Linked DNA regions of Homo sapiens. The protein of the gene in region 2 purifies or fractionates together with the protein of the main gene of each other region. This does not show direct contact. Each region holds a gene or a part of one and is shown on either strand. Other genes may lie near its edges.

Region 1 (3,550 bases), on a different chromosome or scaffold from region 2:
AAAAGAAAAAGAAAAGTCCATGGTGTTGCCATAGTCAGTACCCTACCTCTGTGTTATGCTGCATCAATAGTGCATCAGTTATATGAGTGGCTTGAAAACACTATTGATGTTTTCAAGCCACTCATATAAAAAACAAGCTATAAGAGGAATTCAAAGATTTTACAGTTACAAGATTTTTATATATTTTGTTTTGTTATTACAGGAGTTGTAGATCTTATGGCTCTGACAGTGAAAGTGACCGAAGTTACTCTCATCACCGGAGCCCCAGTGAGAGCAGCAGATACAGTTGAAAACGTCCGGATACAAATTATATCTTATTTGTAAATATCTGGCAACTTAGCTTAAGAAATGTAATGACAGTCTGTTGTTCTATTTCAATATCAGAGGTGAATTTCAAAAATAGACACTTCTTAATTGTTACTGGTTCATTTACATGTGGGGAGAAGAATTTAAAATACAGATATGTCTCCTAAAAATATTTTTATGCCACATTTTACAGTAGCCAACTATGGAAATGAATTTCATTTTCTTGAATCAAGAAATCGTGAAATTTATCTATGTATAATTTGCAATATTATTTTAAGTCTATTTCACTCTATCTTACGTATCCCTTAGAATACAGATTCTTTTTGCCTGTTTTTCCAGTTTTAGCATATATGCTGCCAAGCATAGAACTGTGAAGGAGAACTGTTAAAGGCGGCCAAATATTTATATACTGATTACATAGAGTCTTGTACATATGTGCTCTAAAAACAAACCACCCAGAATTGATACTGTTGGTAACCAGGAGTATAAGGCAGTGGCTCTGGGGTTCTTAATTCATTCCTAACTTCTTTGATACTTCACAGGATTAGGAAAGTGGTCATCATACATCCCACACAGTCTGTATTACTTCAGGCTTGTGGGCAAGGTTAGGAAGAATCAATCAGCCTTAACTATAAATACCTGCACTGTCTCTGAGGACTTACTATTTTATGTTCTTTTTAATCAATACCGATCAGAAGTTTAGGTTATAAAAACAATTCTACTTCATGCTTTGGTGCTTGGTAATTTTTGGTGCGTCTTTAAGCATTACTCTTATATATCATATATTAAAATACCATAAAAATGAAATTCAGACAAAATCACTGGCACCAAAAATGGTTTATTCTGAGCTGTCTTCACTTTGACTATTTGGGGGGCTTCTCTCAAGTACAGATGTGGGTTGGGGTCCCCTGGAGCAGGCAGGATTGGCAGTAAGAGATATTGGCCACTCAAGTCTACTGTGTGTGTGTGCCTCTGGAAGAGTGAAGAATGGACTTCAAAAGTAACATCAAAAATCTAACTGCCACCATCCTGGAGACATTTTGCAGGGCTTTCCTTTCAAGTCTTTCAAGTACAGGATATTACCACAACAGCAGCTGAACTGTTGTAACCAGCATGTTTTTCCTATTTCCACTGTGACCTGCAGCTGACTCAAAGCCTTGCGTGACCTGACCCAGGTGCAAGAGACAGGGGAAGAGGGATAGAGGGTATAGCATAAATTACATATTTTCATGGCTTTGGGTGGTTCCTCCAAAAATAATTGGACCTGTAAAAACTAGTGTGTGTGTGTGTGTGTGTGTGTGTGTGTGTGTGGTTTTTTTTTTTAATCTTTACTTTGAATTTGTTCCCCAAGTGTACTTAATCACCTTAGTGCCAGTTTAATCCAGTTATGCAGAAGAAATTCATATTGGTTGCCTGATGTAGAGCTCAGCACCACCCTACCACAGGCCTTGTCTGGTGTATTTGGGAAGTGGAAAAGAGCCCTCAGTTGGAGGGAGCTGACAACCCTTGGTGGAGGGAGGGTGCCCTTGAATGTATTAAAACTATCACCCAAAGAAGGTATGAAAACAGGGTAAGGTGGTCAGTTGTTTGCCAGGTCAATAGACAGAAAGTACATTAGAAAACAGGACTTAGGCCAAACAAACAATACTGGATACTGAATACAAAACAGTATGATTTATATTAAAGGTTTCCAAAGGTTGCCTGCAAAGGAGAATATTACTACTAGTCAGCAGGAAAAAAATGCATTCAGAACCCAAGCAGAAACTGCCAAATGTAATTAGGTTAAGAAAAGTTACCCTTGGGCAGTGTATTAGTTTTCTATTGCTGTGTGACAAATTACCCCAAATTTAGCAGTTTAAAAAACAATACCCATAGCAGTTCTGTAGCTCATGAGTCTGGCACAGTGTGGCTGGATTCTCTGCTCAGGGTCTTAAAGGCTGAAATAAGGGTTGGCAGGACAACATTCCTTCATGGAGGCTCTGGGGAAGAATCTGCTTCTAAGTTCATTCAGGTTGTTGGCGGAATTCAGTTCTTTGCTGGCTCTCAGCTGGAGGCCCCTCTCTCACCTCAAGGCTGCCTGCATTCCTTCTTATGTGGTCCCCTCCAGCTTCAAACCAGCCTTCCTGCTCTTTCTCATGCTTCATATCTCTCTCCCGTCCTCCTGTTTTAGGGGCATATGATTAGCTCAAGCCCACAGATATATTTTAAGGTTGATTGTGCGATAGAACATAATTGCAGGAGTACTGTCTCATCTCATCATATTCACGGGTTCTGGAGATTAGCTCATTGAAAGTGGGAGGGGCATTTTCAAATTCTGCCTACCACAGGCAATAACTGCCCATCTCAGCTGTAGGTGGAATTTTTACCCAGAAAAGATAGGCCCTAGAAGCCTCATTTCTTTTCTCCATGGAAAAGGACAGCCCTCTGCTGCAGCGTTCAACTTGTGTGTTTACTGACAGAGTGAACTACAGAAATAGCTTTTCTTCCTAAAGGGGATTGTTCTACATTTTGAAGTTATTTTTTAATAAAATTGAATTATGTTGTGTATTGTGCTTCTTAATAGGAAATGCATTATTGGACTGTTTTTGTAACATCCTGTTTATTGCAAATAGCTAGTATCGTTCAAAAACTGTATAAAATACTTTTGTACATATTAGCAATGTCTAATTTGTATACACTTCAGTTAAATTTCCCTAAAACTTGAAAGGGGACCTTGTAGAAATTAAAATATATACTTAGTCTAAGTCTGAGTCTGTTCATGTTTTATCTTTCTGCTGACCCAGCCAGTGAAGACACCTCATCTCCTTTGGCAGCTCCTTTTCTTCTCCTAGCTGAGTGTTAGTGGTGGGTGTAGGAGGTGGAGCTAGAGAGAATGTCAGGCAGAGATTTTAACCTACACAGGTAAGCATTAATGATGTTTGGTCTTCCTCCCCTGGAAAATCCAGATTTCCTCTACACTTTGTTGTCATCTAGTTAAAATGACCTGCATAAAGATGTCTTTGCTGAGGGAGGAATATGTCACATCCCATGTGTGAGTTTCTACCTAGAGACAGTCCATTTACCTACAGCCTCTACATTTCCCTCCCTAACGGCAGCGCACTAGGCAGTGCAGCACATGTCACTCACTCCCAGAGAAAACATTCATGGTGATATTTTTAGTATACACATAAGAATTTGCAGGGGAAGTACAATTAACTTTTGTCTCCTCAGAACTGAAAGGAATGTCTATTTTCTTAGTGAATAC
Region 2 (5,004 bases):
ATTAAGATTTGATCTACTATGGAAGCTCTTACCACATATATAACATTTGAATGGCTTCTCCCCAGTATGGATTCTTTGATGTTCCCGAAGCTGGGAATTGTGAATGAAGGCCTTCCCACATTCCTCACAAATATGAGGTTTTTCTCCTGTGTGTAATTTGCAATGAACATACATTCCTGATCTACGGCTGAAACTTTTCCCACACTGCTCACATTTGAATGGTTTCTCTCCAGTGTGGATTCTCTGATGAGTTTGCAGTTGTGAGTTCTGACTAAATGCCTTACTACACACATCACACTTATAGCGTTTCTCTCCCATGTGAACTTTCTGATGAAGACAAAGAGCTGAGCTATAACAGAATCTCTTCCTGTACTCATTACATGTATGGGATATCTTTCCTGAGTGTAATTGTTGATGAAGATCAAGGATGGAGACATCACTGAAGAATTTTTTACACTTCCCATGCTCAGAAGGTGTCTCTCCTATGTGAATTATAGATAGTCCTGCGTCAACCTGGGAGGGGACATCACCTTGTGTGGAGAACTGAGAGCTACTTATGGAGTCTTGAGGTCTAGTTAACTCACTTGCAGTTTGTTCCCAGATTTGCTGGCAAGACCACTCTTCATGTGGTCCTGTTTCTGGAACAGACTCCAACTCAGTTTGGATCTTGCCTCCTATAAGGACACAGAATTAAGAGATGTGGGTAAGTGAAACCTTTGTTCAGTGTTTTCAGGATTTCACTTAGGACATGGCCTGAAACTTTACTGAATACAAGGAAGGTACAGTTTGTGTTTTCCAAGTGCACCACGGTCTCTCGTTGTCACGAAACCAATTTTGAATGACATAATGTCTCATACGTGGTAGAAATGAAAGACTTAATTTAAAATATTAATATAATACAGTTAATGTGTTACTATTTCTACCAATTTCCTAGTTAGTCTAAAATCTTGCATGGTATATTATGTAACTACTAAATTATATATGTGATGAATCAGAAGGAACGTTAAGGGTAGGAGGACTTCAAGATGGCTGACTAAAGACACCCAGAGCTTGCGTCCTCCACAAAGAGCCAAAATAATGAGTAGTGCTCACTTCAGCAGCACATATGGTAAAACTGGAATGATCAGCCCCTGCACAAGGCCGATATGCAAATTCATGAAGTGTTCTATATATTTTATTACTAAAAAATTTAAAAAGCAAATAGATACTCATACATCAAATAGCATCTAAGAGGGATCACTGGAATTCAGCAGAGAAGTGACAGGAAACACCCGAAGCACAAAAGGAGAGCGAAGGGAGGTAGCCCTTCTGGCCGTGATCACCTGAAAGCCGGGAAAGGCTCCTAGTGCTGGGAAAGGGTAAGTGAGAGAGCCCTAGTGGTTTACATTTCCGCTGTGCACTCCAGCAATCAGCCATGAGAGAGGCCCTCGACCCCTGTGGGCCCTGAGACTAGCACAGGGGGCTACCTGGAGTCCATGCAATGGCACTCAGAGAGGGTACTCATGATGGGACCCACACACTTCCTGAGACTCAAGCAGCTATGGCACAGCGCTATTTTGAGAGCTGCACCCCCACCAGACTGCATCTTGCCCTGGGGCCCAACAGCCTTTGCATCTCCAAATCCCTGAAGCCCCATGGACATGCCCCCACATCCACCCAGAGGGTTACAATAATGCCTGTTAGACCCAGCAGTATGGCAGAGTCCCCAGCAATCTAGGCCACATAGTGTCCCATACTCTAGGGAATGGGCCGTGAAGGACACCAGGGAGGCTGCCCCCAGTACAGTACAAAGGGACCCAAAGTGTGTGCACTCACCAGAGCTTGAAAGCTGCCTGTCTGGGGCTGCTGCCTCTAACGGCAATGCTACCTCACCCCCAGCAGCAGGGCCACTGTACACTCATATGTGTTCTCATTCTGAGGAAAGTTTCTCTGCACACTCTGCCACTGCCACCCAAGCACACCTCCTAAAGGCATGGGGAGTCCCTTGCACTGCCCACCACAACCTGTGCCCGTGCACAGGACAAGCCCACTTCACTTGGTACCGCCCATCTCAGTGCCAGAGCATGACACAGAGGGACCTGGGGATTGCTCTACCCTGTGTTGCCTCAGGCACATGTGTGCACAAACAGGAGACCTGACAAAGACCCAGCTTGTGTGCTGCCAGTGCTGGAGCATGCCATCTGGGGACCTAGGGATCACGCCGCCTCTTCCACCACAGCCTACATCTGCCTGCACCACTGAAAGGCCTGAGGACAGGCTCACCTGGCCTGGCGTCATTCCTCCACTACCTAAGCATACCACCTGGGGCTGTTGAGATCACCCTGCCATGTTGGTTGCCCCAGGCATGAGCATGTACCATGCAGGGAGCTTTACAACAGACCCAGAACCCTGCCGCAGGTGCCCAAGCATGCTGTCTGGAGACCTAAGGATTTCCCTGCCCTGATCACCACCACTGGCATCTGTATACTCCTCCTAGTGACCTGAGGACAGGTCCTACAAGCCTGCTGCCACCATCACCGCTGACACTCACCTGCACACACCATGTGGGGGCCTCAGGACTGGCCCACCCAGCCCATCACCACTACCTCTAACACCGGTACACATAGCCTTAAAACCTGAGGGTTATCCTGCCACCACTATTGGGTACTATGCTCAGTACCTGGGTGACAGGATCATTTGCAATGCAAACCTCAGCATCACACAATATACCCAGGTAACAAACCTGCACATGTACCCCCTGAATCTTAAAATAAAAATTGAACAGCTAAAAGTCCTCCTCTTAAGACATTCCATTCCAGTGGGTAGAGATGACAGCTAAATAGAAATATATAAGACACAGTATAAGACAACACCAGAAGGGTAAAGATAGGATGGTATTCCATTCCCTCTCTCTCTCTCTCTCTCTCTCTCTCTATATATATATATATATATATATATTTCTTTATTTATTTTTTGAGACAGAGTCTCATTCTGTCACCCAGGCTAGAGTGTAGTGGCACAATCCCAGCTCACTACAACCTCTGGCTCCTGGGTTCAAGTGATTCTCACGCCTCAGCCACCCGAGTAGCTGGGATTACAGGACTGTGCTACCACACCCAGCTAATTTTTATATTTTTAGTAGAGTCAGGTTTTGCCATGCTGGCCAGGCTGGTCTCAAACTCCTGGCCTCATGCTATCTGCCTGCCTCAGCCTCCCAAAGTGCTGGGATTACAGGCATGAGCCACCACGCCCGGCTGGTATTTTAAATAGAGTGGTCAGAGAAGGCCTTTCTCATGATATTAAAACTGAACAGAGACCAGAATAAAGGAAGGGTCAGAAGGTCTTGAGGTGAAAGAGTATTCCAATCAGAAAGAAGAGCATATATAAACTCTAAGACAGAAGCTTCTGTAGTAGACAGAACAATGGTCCTTGAAAGATGTCCACATCCAATTCCCAGGACCTATGAACCTGTTATGTTATATAGCAAGAGATATTAAGGCTGCAGATGCAATTAAGGTCACTAGTCAGCTAAAGAGAGAGTAAGAAGGTCATTCTAGATTATGCAGGAGTGACCAATCCAATCGCAAGGGACCCAAAATGTGGAAAACAGAGGCTTAAGAAGGGTGGCAGATGACTATGGAAGAATGGTTAGAGATGCAATGTAGCTGCTTTTGAAGATGGAGGAAGGGAGACAAGAGCCAAGGAGTGTGGACAGTGCCTAGGGATTGGTAAATTAAAGTGAAGGCTTCTCCCCAAGAACATCTAGACAGGAACAAAGCCCTAGGGACACCCTGATTTTTGTCCAGTGAGATGTGTCAGACTTCAGATCTGAAGAACAGAAAGATAATTGTTTGTTGTTTAATCTGCTAAGTGTGTGGTCACTGGGTGACAGCAACAGGCAATACAGTGTCCTTGGCAGGATGGAGAAACAGCAGGGAGTACAACGTGGCTGGAAAATGGAGATGTAGTCAGAGAGGCAGTAGGGGATGAAGAGCAGATCAAGGGTCTCTAAAAGGCACTTAAAGCAGTTGTAACATTAACACAAATAAGAAGCCATAAAGGCTTTTAAGCTGAGGAATGGCAATCTGACTTACATTCCCTAAGGATCACTTTGGCTGCTATGAGGAAAACAGATGTCAGGGTGGGAAGAGGGGGTGGGGGAGCAGGACAACCAGCAGGAAGGAGGTAAGAATCCAGGAAACAGGTTTGGCCATTTATACCAGGGCAATGGAGTTGGGCAATGGACAGAAGTAAAACAGATGGAAGGGTCACGTACAAGGATGCATCGTTGCTTGGTTCTTACCTGAATTCCCTTCTCTTTGGGTTGCTGTCTCCATGATCCAAAACTTTTCTTCTCTTTGGAAGTGAAAAGTATCTCGGTGGGAAAGTTGATGCCCTGTGAACAAAGTCACATGCTTAATCCCAATACATCTTAGGTAAAATTTACTAGAAATTTAGGTTCTCACTGCACACTCGAACTTGAACACTGATATGGTTTGGCGGTGTCCCCAAATCTCATCTTGAATTGTAGTTCCCATAATCCCCACATGTCATAAGAGGGAGCTGGTGGGAGGTAATTAAATCATGGGGGCAGTTTCCTCCATGCTGTTCTCGTGATAGTGGATGAGTTCTCACGAGATCTGATGGTTTTATTTTATTTATGTTTTTTGTTTTTGTTTTTGTTTTTGTTTTTTTTTGAGACGGAGTCTCGCTCTGTCGCCCAGGCTGGAGTGCAGTGATGCGATCTCGGCTCACTGCAAGCTCCGCCTCCCAGGTTCACGCCATTTACCCGCCTCAGCCTCCTGAGTAGCTGGGACTACAGACGCCCGCCACCACGCCCGGCAATTTTTTTTGTATTTTTAGTAGAGACGGGGTTTCACCGTGTTAGCCAGAATGGTCTCCATCTCCCAACCTCGTGATCTGCCCTCCTTGGCCTCCCAAAGTGCTGGGATTACAGGCATGAGCCACCGCGCCCGGCCCTATCTGATGGTTTTATAAGGGGCCTTTTCCCCTTTGCTCGGCACT
Region 3 (3,500 bases), on a different chromosome or scaffold from region 2:
AAGCCACCCCAGCCTGGGCGTGATACAATATCCTAGGGGCTAAGCCACCCCAGCCTGGGCGTGATACAATATCCTAGGGGGGTTAAGCCACCCTGGCCTGGGCGCGATACAATATCCTAGGGGTTAAGCCACCCCAGCCTGGGCACGATACAATATCCTAGAGGGCTAAGCCACCCCAGCCGGGAGGAGGCATGACATCCTAGAGGGGTGAAAGCCCAGCGTCTAGAATCAAACAGCTGTATCCAATTCCACCAGCATCAGCACTGTTCTCACACATGCTCCAGCTCCCTCAGCCCTCCCCCTCTACAGAGAAACCTGTCCTGGGAGCAGACTGTGTACTATAGCTAAGGGACAAGCACGGAGCACAGCTACGCTGCAGGGTCCCATTGTAAACGGCCAACTACCCATCCCCAGGGCCCTTGGTGCCGTCCTGCAATCCTGGCCCAATTCCTTGGTCTACTCACCCTCTCTTCACTGCCGCCAGCACCGCCTCAACCCACCACCCACCTCTCACCTGACACCCAGCTGAGTGTGACCCACACACCACCCCATCCCCCAAACTCCCTGTGTAGCTCCTACCCACTCGAGGACCAGCCTTCCAGGTGTCCTGGACCCTCCTCTCACCTGCACAGTAAGGCACTCCAGCAGCTCTCATGCTCTTAAATGATCACTGTCCCCTCCTTGCTTGATCCTCCCAAACACACTAATAGATATAGCCTTAAAAAGAAGGCCCTCCGTGAACACCCCTCTGAGCTTGCTTATGAACTCACTAGGCTCCCCTTTTTGTCTCCTGGCAATTCCTCCTGACCTCTCGACACTGGGACAAAGAGCTCAGCTCCCAACCCCTTTCTTCACTACCTAAACTCATATCCACACCACCTCGTCCAAATGCTACCCACATGCTCAGAAAGACCTCCAAATTTATACCCCCATCAGCCCCTGAGCTCTAACTCCTAACTCAATAACCTCATTGCTGCTGTAACTTCCTCCTGGATATCCAGAAAGCACAACAGTTCAAACCCCCAACTCCTGATACCCACTGCAGCCCACAGCCTGCTCCTGCAGCCTCCCACCTCAGGAGACAGCAACTCCCTCTCCTGGGCCTCCAGCCAAGAGCCTGGCTGTCAGCTTTCACTCTTCTCCCTCACACCCCATGGCCAGTCCTTCAGCCAATCCTGCTGCTGCTTCCTTCAAAACACACCTAGACACCTACCACATCTCCCACCTCCATCAGCCAGAGGCCACTCTCAGTGCTTGCCTGGATTCATTCCCTGCTCCTATTGCACCAACCTTCTCTACACAGCAGAGTGATCCTTTCATTAACATCTGAATCAGCTTATGAAACACCTCTGGTCCAACTTTCTAGCAAATAAAAAAGCTACAGTCAAAATTTTTGGCCAGGACATGGAACAATGGGAACTCATATTTCTTGTAGGATAAAGGCTCAGCTGCTTTGAAGGACCAGGTGGCCGTTTCTTACAAAGTTAAGCATTATCCCTGAGATCCAGCAAGTCCATCATTCTAGGTATTTATTTACCCAAGGGAAAAAGAAACATATCCATGAAAAGACGTGGACAAGAATATTCACAAAAGCCTTATTAAGAATAGCCAAAAATGAGCCAGGCACAGTGGCTCACACTTGTAATCCCAGCACTTTGGGAGACCGAGGTGGAAGCCCCGGAGTTCAAAACCAGTCTGAGCAACAAAGTGAAACCCTGTCTCTATAAAAATTAGCTGAATGTGATGGTATACACCTGTATTCCCAGTTACTCAAGAAGCAGAAGTGGGAGGATCGCTTGAGCCCAGGAGGTGGAGGTTGCAGTGAGCCATGATCACGCCACTGCACTCCAGCCTGGACATCAGAGCGAGAGACTGTCTCAAAAGCCAAAAATGAGCTGGGCACATTGATGCACACCTGTAGTCCCAGCTACTAGGGAGGCTGAGATGGGAGGATCACTCGAGCCCAGGAGTTGGAGGCTGCAATTCACTATGATCACACCTTTGAATAACCACTGCAATTCAGCCTGGGCAACAGAGAAATCCCTGTCTCTAAATTTTTTGTTAAAGCCAAAAAGGGGAATCCCAAATATCTACCAACAGAAGAATCGGTGAACAAATATGTAGTATGGAGAGTACCCAGCAATGAAAGAACATAGCCAGGTGGTGTGAATATGAGTTTCAGTAGTGGAGAAAGGGGTTGGGAGCTGAGCTCTGTGTCCCGGTGTTGAGAACGTAAACAGGTAAATCTCAAAAACAGTGTTGGATAAGAGAAATCAGAAACAAAAAATGACATACTAGATTATTCCATTTACATGAAGTCCCAGAACAGGCAGAACTGGATTTGTTTTCCTGAGATGGAGTCTCGCTGTATCTCCCAGGCTGGAGTACAGTGGCGCGATCTCAGCTCACTGCAACTTCCACCTCCTGGATTCAAGCAATTCTCCCTGCCTCAGCCTCCCAAGTAGCTGGGATTACAGGCGCCCACCAAACACCCAGCTAATTTTTGTATTTTTTAGTAGAGACAGGGTTTCACCATGTTGGCCAGGCTGGTCTTGAACTCCTGACCTCAGGTGATCCACCCATCTCGGCCTCCCAAAGTGCTGGGATTACAGGCATGAGCCACCGCGCCTGGCCCAGAACAGGCAGAACTTATCTGTGGTGCAGAAGTCAGGAGGCAGCAGGCTGTTGGGTAGGGTCTATAGACAGGTTAATGGTGCCTCACTGTTCCCACAATATGGCTCCAGCCCAGGTAAAAAGTTCAAGGGGAACTCTCCACACCTTCTGACTCTAGCCTGCGATAAAACAGGCCCTTGCCATGTTATCACCTGGGGTCTAGATGGGACAAAAGTGCCAGACACTGATTTTAAACAAGGGGCCTGGAGAGGATGCTGCATTAATGGAGCCAGGCCTGGTGAGCCTCTCCTCTACAAAAGCCTTCCGGCCAGGGGCAACAGCTCACATCTGTAATCCCAGCACTCTGAGAGGATCACTGGAGCCCAGAAGTTTGACACCAGCCTGGGCAACATAGCAAGACCCCCATCTCCACTAAAAAAAAAAAATCAAAAAATTAGTCAGGCATGATGGTGCACACCTGTAGTCTCAGCTACTCCGGAAGCTGAAGCAGGAGGATGACTTGAGGCTGGGAAGTCAAGGCTGCAGTGAGCTATGATTGCATCACTATAGCCCAGCCTGGGTGACAGAGCAAGACCCTTTCTCAAAAAAAAAAAAAAAAAAAAACCGTCTCAAAGCAGAGGAACTGGGGTTTCCCATTATGTTTCAGGACTACCTGAGTCACTTGCCACTTTAGGACAGGGAGCAAGGGGAAGACACTAAGCAGTCTGTCTTAAACGGACCCCAGAGTGGCTGGCTCAATGAGCTCTTGCTTCTAGGAGGTAGGTACCCCCAATAAGTCCCAGTAAGGAGGGGGCAGTCAAAATCACTCACGGCTGAGACCCCATCTCCATAAAAAGAAAAAAAAAAAATCACTCAGGGTCTTTTCA

The links. Proteins that work in one complex are often made in the same cells at the same time.
Region 1: the proteins of ZNF284 (region 2) and NKTR purify together in Homo sapiens (affinity purification with mass spectrometry; one large-scale study listed by BioGRID and IntAct). This does not show direct contact.
Region 3: the proteins of ZNF284 (region 2) and GINS2 purify together in Homo sapiens (affinity purification with mass spectrometry; one large-scale study listed by BioGRID and IntAct). This does not show direct contact.

The regions. Positions count from the first base shown.
Region 1 is NC_000003.12:42,645,686-42,649,235, forward strand, and holds the end of NKTR (NK-tumor recognition protein), read left to right. Parts: intron 1-202; coding exon 203-290; 3' UTR 291-3,050; downstream 3,051-3,550. UniProt on the Homo sapiens protein: PPIase that catalyzes the cis-trans isomerization of proline imidic peptide bonds in oligopeptides and may therefore assist protein folding. Component of a putative tumor-recognition complex involved in the function of NK cells.
Region 2 is NC_000019.10:44,081,384-44,086,387, reverse strand, and holds part of ZNF284 (zinc finger protein 284), read right to left. Parts: intron 4,376-5,004; coding exon 4,283-4,375; intron 675-4,282; coding exon 1-674. UniProt on the Homo sapiens protein: May be involved in transcriptional regulation.
Region 3 is NC_000016.10:85,682,455-85,685,954, forward strand, and holds part of GINS2 (DNA replication complex GINS protein PSF2), read right to left. Parts: intron 1-3,500. UniProt on the Homo sapiens protein: Required for correct functioning of the GINS complex, a complex that plays an essential role in the initiation of DNA replication, and progression of DNA replication forks.